Homo sapiens: one gene and its partner. The protein of the gene in region 1 interacts with the protein of each later gene in a biochemical or structural test. Each region holds a gene or a part of one and is shown in the gene's direction. Other genes may lie near its edges.

Region 1 (7,027 bases):
TTGGATAAAGTTTACTAAGAAAGGCACTGGATGAGAGAAATCAGGCAGCTGAGGATGACGATAAAATAAATAGAGGTATAGATCATGAGCATTTATTGTGCAAGACTGCAGCAAATTTTAGGCACAATAAACTCCATTGGGCATGGCTAAAAAGAAATGGAGTGTTTTTGTGCAATAGTTTCCATAAATATATCATGCATACATTACCAATTTCCAAATACCTAAATGCTCACAAACCCATCTCTTACTCGAAGAAATTCTATAAACTGACCTAGACACAGTGATGAATTCATGGAACTAATCTCTCAAGTAAGGAGCTAATATATATAAATATATATATATATATTATATATAAAAGACTATTTTTGGAGCAGATTTAGGTTAACAGAAAAATTACAAAGAAGGTAAAGAGAGAGTTCCCACATACCACCCTGCACATACACAAGGTTTCTCCTGTTATTAACATCTTGCCTCAACGTGGTACATTTGTTACCACTGAGGAGCCAATATTCTTACATTATTAAAGTTCATAGTTACATTGGGGCTCACTCTTTGTGTTGTACAGTTCTATGAGTTTTGACAAACGTGTAACGTCCTGTGTCCACCGTTACAGAATCATACAGAATGGTGTTGCCGCCTTAAAAAGTCCCTGTGTTCCACCTATTCATCCCTTCCTTTCTCCTCCTAAACTGTTGGCAAACACTGATCCTACTATCTCCAGTTTTGCCTTTTCTAGAATGTCACATAGTTGGAATCACGCAGTATGTAGCTTTTTCAGACTGACCTCTTTTATTTAGCAATATACATTTAAGGTTTCTTCGTGTCCTTTTGTAGCTTGATAGCTCATTTCTTTTTAATCACTAAATAATACTCCATTACATGGATGTATCACAGTTTATTCATTCACAGATTGAAAAACCACTTGGTATTTCCAGCTTTGAACAAATATATGAATAAAGCTGCTACAAACATTTGTGTGCAGGTTTTTGTGTGGACGTAAGTTTTTGTTCATTTGAATAAGTATAATGTTGTATCATTTGAAAAGCTGTGGTTACCATTGTAAAAAACTGCCAGACTGTCTTCCAAAGTGACTGTACCATTTTGCATACCTATCAGCAATGAATGAGAATTCCTGCTTGTCGTTCCACATCCTTTCCAACGTTCAGTGTTTTCAGTGTTCTTTTTTAAAACTTTAGCCATTCTAATAGGTATATAATGATATCTTGTTTTAATGTGCAATTCTCTAATCACATATATTAATAATCTTACCATCTGTTTATCTTCATTGATGACATATCTGTTCAAATCTTTTGCTCATTTTGTAATTAGGTTATTTTCTTATCATTGAATGTTAACAGATCTTTGTATATTTTGGATACAAATCCCTTTTTCAGAATATGTTTTGCAAATATTTTTTCCTGTGGCTTTTCATTCTCTTAACAGTGACTTCCTCAGAGCAAAAGGTTTTAGTTTTAATAAAGTCCAATTGATCCATTTTTCTTTTCATAGATCATACTTTGGTCACCTGAATTTTCTTATCTTTTAGAAGCTGTATAGTTTCACAGTTTACATTTAGTTCTATAATCCATTTTGAGTTAATTTTTGTGAAAAATTTAAGGTCTGTTTACAGACTCATTTATTCGCATGCAGATATTGTTATACCAGCACCCATTTGTTAAAAAGACTATCCCTTCTCCATTGAATTGCCTTTGCTCCTTTGTTAAAGATCAGTTTCCTATATTTGTATCAGTCTATTTCTGGGCTATTCTGTTTCAATGATTTATTTCTTTATTCTTTCATTGATACCACACTGTCTTGATCACCGTAGTGGTAGTAATCAAGGATAGTGTCAGTTTTCAAAAACTTTATTCTTCCACTTCAATATTGTGTTGGCTATTCTGGTCTTTTGCTCTCCATATACACTTTAGAATCAGTTTGTCAATATCCATAAAATAACTTGCTGGAATTCTGAATGGGATAGTATTGAATCTGTAGATCAAACTGGGAAGAATAGATATCTTAATAATATAATATTAAGTCTCCCTATCCATAAATGTGGAACATCTTATTTCATTCAGATATTCTTTTATTTCCTTCATCATAGCTTCATAGTTTTTCTCACATAAATCTTGTACATATTTTGTTAGGTTTACACCTAAGGTTTTTGTTGTTGTCATTGTTTTTGTTTTGTTGGCACAAATGTAAATGGGCTTATGTTTTTAATTTCAAATTCTGGTTGTTCACTGCTATATATAGGAAAGCAATTGACTTTTTGTAAAACTTTGTATCCTGCAACATTGTCATAATCACCTATTTAAAAAAAAAACTTAATCAGTTCTTTGAGATTTTATACATAATCATATCATTTGTGAACAAAGATAGTTTTATTTATTCTTTCTCAATCATCTTTTATTATTCTTGTTTTATTGCATTAGCTAAGACTTCCAGTGTGATGCGGAATAGGCATGGTAAGAAGGAACATCCTTGTCTTGTTCCTGATCTTAGGGGGAAAGCATCTAGTTTCTTACCATTATGTCAGCTATAGGTTTTCTATGTTCTTTATCGCATTAAGGAAATTCCCTTCCGTTCCTAGTTTTTATCATGATTGAGCGTCGTATTTTGTCAAATGTGTTTTCTGCACTTATTGATATATTCACATTTTTCTTTAGCTAATTGATGTGATTACATTGATTTCTGAAACTTGAACCAACTTTGCATACCTAGAATAAATCTCTATTGGCTGTAGTGTGTAACTGTTTTTATACATTGTTGAATTCAATTTGCTAATATTTTGTTGAGAATTTTTGTATCTGCTCATGAGAGATACTGGCCTATAACTTTTCTTCATAGTAATTGTCTTTGCCGAATTTAGTATTGGGTAATGCTAGTCTCACCCGATTAGTTAGGAAGTATTATCTCTTCTATTTTCTGGAAAAGACTGTAGAACATTGATGTCATTTCTTCTTTAAATGTTTGGTAGAATCCACTAGTAAAACTATTTGAGCTTGGTGCTTTCTGCTCTGAAAGGTTATGGTTGATTTAATTTCTTTAATAGATCTAGGGATATTTAATTATCTGCCTATTAATTACACCTGCCACTGTAATGATCTCTTATTTCTCCTGTGTGAGCTTTGGCCAATGATATTTTGAAGTATTATTTCCATTAGGATTAAGTAAATATTCAAGATGATGACTACTATGAATTATTCAAGTCATAAAGAAGTCCTTGCGTATTAGGAGTTAGTTAGAAAAAATTTACCTTTGCTACCGGTAAAGGTTCTAATAAATTTGATTGCATATATTTAATCTACTCAAAAACTAAGTTCAGATTTGATTGCTGAAAGAGGCATAGAAATTTATTTTAAATTGACAGTGCCAAACAGAGCAACAAATTAATGAAACATCAACAACAGTGAGAGGCTTTTCATGTTTTCTTACAATCCCTTTTAAGATCAGAGAACATTTTTTCCCCAAAAATTTCAAAGGAAGAGTCAGAGCCAAAGCATTTTGAAAAGAAAAAGAGTTTACTTGAAAAGGTTCAAGGGAGTCAGACTTCAGAAAAACTGGATAAGCAAGTGAAAAATATAACAGGTATTTAAAGAAAAATATAAAGAAGATTACCATGATTACTAAGTTTGCATTAATTTGTTCATGGAGAAAAAACAAAATCTTATCACATGATGATCATATTCAGAAAGATCTTGCAACATGAGCTAAATAAAAGTCAAGAATAAAATGGTGTTTGCTGGGGATCTGGGATTATAAGAAATACTCAATGTTTCATTATTTTGGGACCAGAAATTGACAGGGTAACGCTGTTATTTTTGGTTAATCTTAGGGTACAAGGTGCTTCATCATGATGGAAACAAACAGGGCATGATTTCTGCTTTGCTTCCAGAAGCATAAAGCAAATGTCACTACTACAAAATATAGATAGGATATTTCTTATAACTCTAATCACTGTTGTAAGTAAATAAAAATCCAAAGTCAAATCATAGACTCTCAATTACCATGGTTTTTACACATTTCTACCATCCCTTCCTGGTGCACTGTATTGAGCCATACTGAGCTATATTTTTCTACTTCACAACTTTTCACTTACGGGAAGACAGCTATTGTCCCCCACACCACCCTAATGTGGGCAAGAGGACCACTTGACCCTCATATATTTAACACTCTTGACCCTCATATATTTAACATTCATAATTATGTATTGCCTAAATACTCACTGTTGTAGTCACTGAAATGCCTGTGAAATAATTTTTAAAACTGTATTTACAAAAGAAAGCCTATTTCTAGTAATGGTGATGGAAATTAAGAGAAAATATAGACATCTATAAAAGTGTGATGGTTCTCAATGACAAAATATGATTTATGAAACAAATGGCTAAAATCCTAAATCTTTTGCATGTTTGTACTCAGGAATTCTCTCTCTGGTGAGATGTGGCAGCTTTTTCCTTCCCCTCCCTCTTACTCCTCCCCATCTCCCTTCTTCCATTCCTTCCTTTCCTTTTACATTTTAAAATAAATGAGGGTGGGAAGACCTGTACATACAAACCCATACATGTACCTATACCTCATCTTCTTAGAAGGATTTTAAACTCTGATTCTTCCATTATGTTCACCATCCTTCCTTAAAAGTCTAGCTATAAGGGATAAATGTCAGTGTCCAAATGTCCAAAATCTAACATAATATCTCATAATTATGATAGGTACTTGATGCTAGGAGAAATAAGAGATTTGACAGTGATAGGTGAGAAAATGTCCTGATATACAATTTTGACAGTACATGTAGGATACTCAAAAGGAATTACGCCAATTCGGGTTATAATTCTTTCTAGTTATGAAGAATATATTATTTCTGTTAACATACATAATCTAGAAGGCAAGCACGGGCTTTTGAAGGGTCATAGAAAAAAAAAATGACCAAATCCACTGAGGACAACTTGGTGATAACATTTTCTCTTTTTCATTTCAAAGGTGTCCTTGAATGGCCATTTTGGACAAAACTGGTTGTGGTAGCCATTGGCTTCACAGGAGGTCTTGTCTTCATGTACGTACAGTGTAAAGTCTATGTTCAGTTGTGGCGCAGGCTGAAGGCCTACAACCGTGTGATCTTTGTACAAAATTGCCCAGACACTGCCAAAAAACTGGAGAAGAACTTCTCATGTAATGTAAACACAGACATCAAAGATGCTGTGGTAGTGCCTGTACCACAAACAGGTGCAAATTCACTGCCATCTGCAGAGGGTGGCCCCCCTGAAGTTGTATCAGTCTGATGGAACCTGTTGGGAGTTTCTTCACCGAAGAATATCTTTCTAGCCCTCAGCCACTACAAATGACAGAAGTGATCTTGAATTATTTACTCCCTTCAGCTCCTCCTTTCTCCTACTGACACATTTTTCCTGACTTTGTTCAAAGAGGAAAGGAGAAAAACAAACAGACCAAATGCCCAGGAGCCCATGAAGTAATAGCGTAAAGTAAAGTATGATATGGAAATGTGAAGTTTGCAAGAGAATGATTTCCAAGACAATTAAGAACTACTGGGGCAATGAATGCTTTTAGGCAGTAATCAAAGATTAAATGGACCCATGATACTCTTCTTCACAGTAACAGGGGAAAAGTTCAAGAATACAGACTTGAATTGCGATGTGTATTACTTCTAGGGCCTTGTAATGTTAACTGTCTCATCTGGAAATAACTAACATATTTGGTTTTAAGCCTGAAATTGTCTGCATTATCCCTAAGTCACATTGGAAGTGAACTTGGAGGATGCATATTTTGATATGCTTTGACAGCTAACAGATTTGTATGGTTTAGTGGAGTCTGGTTATTTTGACAGATGCATGTTTTTTTTAAATAGATGCAATATACATTTGAAGACATTGATATTTGGAATTAATTACGTTTGTTTAAGTCACGCAAAAGATTTTCAGAAAATGTTCGGATATAATTAGCTCTGTTAAATACCCACAGAACTGTTATCAGGTCTTATATTTATTTTCATCTGGTTCCTCTAATACAGTGCTGTCCAATAGAAACACAACAGCCACAAATGCAGGCCACAGATGCAAATATTTAACTTCCCAGTAGCCCTATTTTAAAAAGTAAAAATAAATGTTTGTTTGTTAAAATGAATTTTGATTTTTTAAAAACACTATATGTTATTTCAACATGTCATCAATATAAAAAATTGATTGATTGATTGATAGTTTACATCTGTTTCTTGAACCAAGTTTTCAAAATCCAGTTGGTAATTTAAAAGTACACTTCAACTTGAATTAACTATATTGGATAGCACAGCCGTAAAATTAGAGACTAAGCTTCTGCTTTATTTAACAGTTGTTGAGTATTTCAAAACAGTTTAATTCATTCTTTTATTTCAAAGTCACAAAAGTTAGTTATGATTTTTAAAAGCATTAAATTAAGTGTCCTCATTTTAAAGTCAGATGAAGTTCACATCTCTAAAGGGTAAAAATCCAAAAGTATAGAAAGATAAAACAATCAATCTGCCTATAGCAGAGTTGTGAAATAAATAAATTGTTACTATGAAGTACTTACAATAGGGGAATAAAATTACCTATTTTTGTTATTAAATCAAATGTGTAAGGCTTATTTCATCCATATGAGGTGTCAACTTGACAGATGATGAGTAATTATGACTAAGAATCTAGCCCTTACTTTTAAAAGCTGACAGGATTTCCCTTGCTCAGTTAGAAAACAAAAATATTCAACAGATTCTGTGATAAGTAATTAATCGTTTAGGTTTGACAGTTGATTATTGTGTTCTTTGCATATTCATGTAAAACTGATGTGTGAATGACATTGCAGTGAGCTAGATTAACGGTGATTATAGATACAGTAGCCTGTCAAAGAAAGATGTCCTACATTAAAAAAGGTGACTTATTTTTGTTAGCTGTCATTATTTATTAACATGAAAAGGCAATGATGGCCATAAGAACCAAAGCATGAGTATCACACTGCACAAATCTGGGTATCACATGGATGCACTTTGTAATTATCAGTG
Region 2 (7,027 bases), on another chromosome or scaffold:
GCAGGTGCTGTTCTATGCGCTTTGCATATATAATCTCAGTTAATCCTCACGGCAAAACCCCACGAGGTGCGGTTTAATCTTCCCTTTTCACAAGTGAGAAAACTTCGCTTGAGGCCAGCAGGCAGCAGGGCTGGGATTGCAATCTAGCTAGTGTGGCTGCAGAGCAATGGTTTCTTAACAAATCTTTGTTCTTTTGAGTCCGAGCCTCCGTACCCCCCACGATTGGGGTGATGGTGAACAAAATCCTGTCAAATAAATGGGCTGTGATGCCTCTTGAAGGCTTGGGGAGGGGCAAAGAACTTTTCAGATCATTAATCTCTAATGTCAACCAATATGGCTTTTTTTTTTTTGAGACGGAGTCTTGCTCTGTCACCCAGGCTGGAGTGCAGTGGCACGATCTCAGCTCACTGCAACCTCCACCTCCCAGGTTCAAGGGATTCTCCTGCCTCAGCCTCCCCAGTAGCTGGGATTACAGGCGTGTTCCACAACACCGGCTTATTTTTTGTATTTTTAGTAGAGACAGGGCTTTGCTGTGTTAGCCAGGATGGTCTCGACCTCCTGATCTTGTGATCCACCCGCCTCGGCCTCCCAAAGTGTTGGGATTACAGGAGTGAGCCACCGTACCTGGCCTTTTTTTTTTTCTTTTTTTTTTTTGAGACAGGGTGTCACTCTGTCACCCGGGCTGGAGTGCAGTGACACGATCTTTGCGACCTCCGCCTTTCAGGTTCAAGTGCATCTCCTGCCTCAGCCTCCTGAGTAGCTGGGATTACAGTCGTGTATCACCACCCTTGGCTAATTTTTGTATTTTTAGTAGAGATGGGATTTCGCCATATTGGTTAGGCTGGTCTCAAACTTCTGACCTCAAGTGATCTGCCTGCCTCGGCCTTCCAAAGACCTGGGATTATAGGTGTGAGCCATCACTCCGGGCCCAATATGGCATTTTGATTGGGATGAAGGGTGGAGGAAAATCAGTGTGATTTTTGTATCTATCTCTCTAGCTATCTATTATTTTTTGAGATGAGGTCTTGCTCTGTTGCTTAGGCTGGAGTGCAGTTGGGCAATGATGGCTCACTGCAGCCTCGACCTCCTGGACGCAAGCCATCCTCCTATTTTAGCCTCCGTAGTAGCTGGGACCACAGGCACACGCCACCCTGCCTGGCTAATTTTTACTTTAATGTGTAGAGCTGAAGTCTTGCTATTTTGTCCAGGCTGGTCTCAAACTCCTGGCCTCAAGCGATCTGCCTGCCTTGGCCTCCCGAAGTGCTGGGATCACAGGCATGAGCCACGGTGTCTGGCCTCTGCAGTTATTCTTATTCTTTGCTTCTCTCCTGGAGACCTGCTTCTTGCCCTTCCCCATTCATGCATAGAGACCACAGGGTGTGGGCTGAGTCCCCAGGGCTCCCCACCTCACCCCACTCTACCCTTGACTTCCATTCCTCTTTGGTTTAAGCAGAACTCTCAATCTTGGCACTGCTGACATTTGGGGCTGGATCATTCCTGGTGGTGGGGGCTGTCCTGTATGTAGAGTGTTGAGCTGGAACCATGGTCTCCACCCATGTGGTCCTGGGAGGATCCCCTTCCCCCCAGGCATGACAACCACTAATGTCTCCAGACATTGCCAGGCACGTCTCTGCAGGAGTTAACCTTTTCCCTGTCTGAGACATTTACCCATCTGGGCTCTTGCTCTTTCTCCTCTCTTTGTTCAATAATCCTCGGCCGGGTGCAGTGGCTCACGCCTGTAATCCCAACACCTTGGGAGGCTGAGGTGGGCGGATCCCCTGAGGTCAGGAGTTTGAGACCACCCTGGCCAACATGGTGAAACCCCATCTCTACTAAAAATGCAAAAATTAGCCAGGTGTGGTGGCGGGTCCTTGTAATCCTAGCTACTTGGGAGGCTGAGGCAGGAGAATCGCTTGAACCTGGGAGGCAGAGCTTGCAGTGAGCCGAGATCACACCATTGCATTCTAGCCTGGGCAACAGAGAGAGACTCTGTCTCAAAAAAAAAAAAAAAAAAGAAAAGAAAAAAGAATCTTCATTTACCCACGTGCTTTTTCAGCCTCTAAACACCCAGTACCCCCCAATCCCCATTACCTACCACTGACCTCCAGCCTCCACCCTGTCCAGCTTCCCCAGGCCAGTCCTCCCTGCCCTTTCCATCTCACTCTTTTCTCACTGTTCTGCCCCCAGCATCTGGCTTGCATCTCCGCTGCTTTACCGATGGCTCTCGAAGTTAATCTCTCATCTCCCAGTTGCGTCTCCTGCAGCCTCACCTCACTTGACCCCTCTGGGTTTGACATTGCCAGTCCCCCCTCCTGGAAGGCTGTGTCTCCCGTCTCACCTGTGCCTAAGTTCTTCTGTTTTACTGTTCTCTTCTCCTTCTACCTGGGCTAAGATGTTGGCTCTCTCTTCCCAGAGGGTCAGTGTTTCCTTTAATCTTCTCTCAGCTCACTTTTTTTTTTTTTTTTTTTTCACTTCTTCACCCGGGCTGGTGTGCAATGGCATGATCTTGGCTCACTACAACCTCCGTCTCCTGGGTTCAAGCAATGGTCCTGCCTCAGCCTCTCCAGTAGCTGGAATTACAGGCATGTGCCACCCCGCCTGGCTAGTTTTTGTACTTTTAGTAGAGACAGAGTTTCACCCCATTGGCCAGGCTGGTCCCAAACTCCTGACCTCAAGAGATCCACCTACCTCAGCCTCCCAGAGTGCTGGGATTACGGGCATGAGCCACCGTGTCCGGCCCTTTTTTTTTTTTTTTTTTTTTCCAATTTTTATTTCTTTTTAGAGACAGGATTTTGCTCTGTCACCCAGGCTGGAGTGCAGAGGTTTAGTCCTAGCTTACTGCAGCCTCCAAGTCATGGCCTGGAGCAGTCCTCCCACCTAGGTTCCCCAAGTAGCTGGAATCACAGGCAGGTGCCACCATGCCCAGCTAATTGAAAAATTTGTTTGTAGAGACAGAGTCTCACTATGTTGCCCAGGCTGGTCTTGATTTCCTGGCCTCAAGTGAGCCTCCTGCCTTGGCCTTCTGAGAAACTAGGATCACAGGCAGGCACCACCATGACTAGCTAATTTTTAAAATTTATTTGTAGAGACAGAGTCTAGCTATGTTGCCCATGCTGGTCTTGAATTCCTGGCCTCAAGCAACCTGCTTGCCTCCGCCTCCTGGGTACCTGGGCTCACAGACAGTCACCACCATGCCTGGCTAATTAAAACTTTTTTTTTTTTTTTGTAGAAACAGGGTCTTGCTATGTTGCCTAGGCTGGTCTTGAACTCCTAGTTCAAGCAGTCTTCCCTCCTGGGCCTCCCAAGTGCTGGGATTATAGGCATGAGGAACCATTGCGCCCAGCTAAGAAATTTACATAGATTCCGACTTCTTCATCTGAACAGGGGTCAGCAAACTATGGCCCTCAGGCCAAATCCCACGGTTTTTGTAAATGCAGTTTTATTGGCATGCAACCACACTCATTTGTCTACTCATCATCTATGACTGCGCAAAAATGCCCCGACACGGCAGGTTGAGTAGTTAAAACAGGAATTCCATGGCCAAAATATTTACACTTTGGCCCTTTACAGAACAGCGTTTGCTGACCTCTGATCTGGAACAGACGCCTTGAGGTTTCATTCATGATAGCATGCCTAATAGCTTGTGCAGTCCCTGGTACAACTCGAATGAAGTGAGTGAAATGAAACGCTATGTCTTTCTCTTTACACCGCAAGAGATGTTAAAGAAACGTGTGTCATTTGCTGCACTGAATATACGGATTCCAAGGATGAGAAAAATCACCGTGATGTTGCCTACTTAGCCATGTGTATTTATTTAAACAGCTATATTGGCATTGAATGAGGATTTCATGCTCTCAACCCTGTATCTAGAACCCAAAATATAACTGGTGTATATAATGAGATTTTTTTTTTTTCTCTCAGGCCTCTCTTGTGTTAATTTCTGTTAAGAATACTTCTGGGCCAGGTGTGGTGGCTCACGCCTGTAATCCCAAGCACTTTGGGAGGCCGAGGTGGGTGGATCACTTGAGGTCAGGAGTTCGAGACCAGCCTGACCAACATGGTGAAACCCCATCTTTACTGAAAAAATACAAAATTAGCCAGGCGTGGTGGCGCATGCCTGTAATCCCAGCTAGTTGGGAGGCTGAGGCAGGAGAATCGCTTGAACCTGGGAGGTGGAGGTTGCAGTGAGCCGAGATTGCGCCACTGCACTCTAGCCTGGGTGACAGAGCGAAACTCCATCTCAAAAAAAAAAAAAAAAAAGAATATTTTTGGCCAGGTGCAGTGGCTCATGCCTGCAATCCCAGCACTCTGGGAGGCTGAGGTGGGAGGATTACATGTGTCCAGGAGTTTCAGATCAGCCTGGACAACACAGCAAGACCCTGTCTCCACTAACAATAAAACAAAAATTAGCTGGGCATGGTGGCATGTGTCTGTAGTCCCAGCTACTTGGGAGGCTGAGATGGGAGGACCTCTTGAGGCTGGAAGGGCAAGGCTGCAGTGAGCTGTGATTGTACCACTGCACTCCAGCCTGGGCAACAGTGAGATCCTCTCTCTGTCTCAAACAAAAAAAGAATACTTCTTGGGGTGGCCTGGTTGATATTTTGCAGCTGCATGGTATTTACAGTTTTTAATTAAATAGTGACGGGTAATGCATTCTCATTGCAAAAAGAAAAATTACAAAAGTGTAGAAAGGAAAAAAAAAACACAGAAGTCCTTCTGCAAAATCTTGTGGTGGGGTGCAGTGGCTCACACCTGTAATCCCTGGACTTTTTAGGAAGCTGAGGTGGGAGGAACACTTGAAGCCAGCAGTTTGAGACCAGCCTGGGCAACATAATGAGACATTATCTCTAGAAAAAGTTTAAAAATTAGCTGAGCATGGTGGTGTGTACCGGTAGTCCCAGCTACTCAGGAGGCTGAGGTGGGAGGATCGCTTGAGCCCAGAAGGTTGAGGCTACAGTAAGCCATATTCATGCCACTGCACTCCAACCTGGGTGATAGAGCCCGACCCTGTCTCAAAAAGAAAAGAAATAATAAAAAAAAATCTTGTCCCCCTGTCCCCAAAAGCATTCCATTCATGTCCAGGGAGGTAACTGTGCCATTGGTTTATGTATCTTTTTGATGTTTAGTAATTTTTTAGGCTAGGTGTCATGGGGCCACTCCTGTAATCCCAGCACTTTGGGAGGCCGAAGCAGGTGGATCTCTTGAGCCCAGGAGTTCAAGACCAGCCTGGGTAACATAGCAAGACCCCGTCTCTACAAAACCCTACAAAAAAATTATCCAGATACAGTGGTGAGCACCTGTGGTCCCAGCTACTAGGGAGGCTGAGGTGGGAGGATCACCTGAGCCTGGGAAGTCGAGGCGCCAGTGAGCTGTGATTGCACCACTGCATCCAGCCTGGGTGACATAGTGAGACTGTGTAACAACAACAACAACAAAATATTTTAAACATTATCATACAGTAAAATTGGCTTTTTAAAGGTGTACCATTTTATGATTTTTAAGCCATGTGTAGAGTTGTATGGCTATTGCCACAATTAGGATAGAGAACAGTCTCGTTGTTGTCCAAACTCCCTCAATTCACCCCTTTATCACTAAACCACCTCCACCCCTAACCACAGATCTGTTCTCCATCCCTATAGTTTTCTCTAGACTTTAAAAGATTTTATCTTATAATTGGATTAATATTCCTAAAGTTGAAATTTTAAATTTGAGTCTGGTTGATCCTCATCATTCCCAGATCCCATATTTTCTTTTTAAAATTTAAAATTTAAATTTTTATTTTGAGAGGCAGGTTCTTGCTCTGATACCCAGGCTGGAGTGCAGTGGTGTGGTCCTAATTCCCTGCAGCCTCCAACTCTTGAGCATCAACGATCCTCCTGCCTCAGCCTCCTGAGTAGCTGGGACTACAGGCACACACCACCATGCTCAGCTAGTTTTTATTGTTATTTATTTATTTATTTATTTTTGAGACGGAGTCTCACTAACTCTGTTGCCCAGGCCAGACTGCAGTGGTGTGATCTGGGTTCACTGCAACCTCTGCTTCCTGGGCTCAAGCAACTCTCCTGCCTCAGCCTTTCTAGTAGCTGGGGTTACAGGCACGCCACCATGCCCGGCTAGTTTTTTTTATTTTTAGTAGAGATGGGGTTTTACCATGTTGGTCAGGCTGGTCTCAAACTCCTGGCTTCAAGTGATCCGCCCACTTCAGCCTCCCAAAGTGCTGGGATTACAGGCGCGAGCCACTGTGCCCGGCCTAATTTTTAACTTTTCAGCAGGGATAAGGGCTCGCTATGTTGCCCAGGCTGGTCTCGAACTCCTGGCCTCAAGTGATCCTCCCATCTTGACTTCCTAAAGTACTGGGATTACAGGCATGAGCCACTGCACCTGGCCCCAGACCCTGTATTTTTGAATTCACCTACTCACTCAAATGTATTTGTAACCCTCAAACCAGCATGCTCAGTGCCTTTCTGGTCATTTTAGGACACTCATAAGTACGAGTCTCAAATGTGAGGTCAAGTAAGAGGGCATTCCACCTTCTTGCTTCAGCCCTTATGCGTCAGATTCATACAATCTGCACACTGAGGATTAAAACTAGTCCTTTTTGAGCAGGCGCAGTGGCTCATGCCCAGCGCTTTGGGAGTCCGAGGCGAGTGGATCACGAGGTCAGGAGATCGAGACCATCCTGGCTAACATGGTGAAACCCTGTCTCTACTAAAAATACAAAAAATTAGCCAGGTGTGGTGGCGGGCGCCTGTAGTCCGAGCTACTCCGGAGGCTGAGGCAGGAGAATCACTTGGACCCAGGAGGTGGAGGTTGCAGTGAGCCGAGATTGTGCCTCTGCACTCCAGCCTGGGTGACAGGGTGAGACTCAAAACAAAAAACAACAACAAAAAAACCTGAGTCCTTTTTGTGGTTATTTGGTGCCACATTTTTAGCATTTTTGTGCTTTCAGTTGGTGATGGGGCTGTTTCAAATGCCCCCCAGGGTGCTGAAGCCCTGCTCTCTACTCTTCCTTGGCTAAGGAGGGCTG

Evidence for each region. Proteins that work in one complex are often made in the same cells at the same time.
Region 2: of the proteins of MARCHF1 (region 1) and INSR, one has a biochemical effect on the other in vitro, tested with the Homo sapiens proteins (one study listed by BioGRID).

What each region holds. Positions count from the first base shown.
Region 1 is NC_000004.12:163,527,000-163,534,026, reverse strand, and holds part of MARCHF1 (E3 ubiquitin-protein ligase MARCHF1), read left to right. Parts: intron 1-4,980; coding exon 4,981-5,279; 3' UTR 5,280-7,027. UniProt on the Homo sapiens protein: E3 ubiquitin-protein ligase that mediates ubiquitination of TFRC, CD86, FAS and MHC class II proteins, such as HLA-DR alpha and beta, and promotes their subsequent endocytosis and sorting to lysosomes via multivesicular bodies.
Region 2 is NC_000019.10:7,284,393-7,291,419, reverse strand, and holds part of INSR (insulin receptor isoform Long preproprotein), read left to right. Parts: intron 1-7,027. UniProt on the Homo sapiens protein: Receptor tyrosine kinase which mediates the pleiotropic actions of insulin.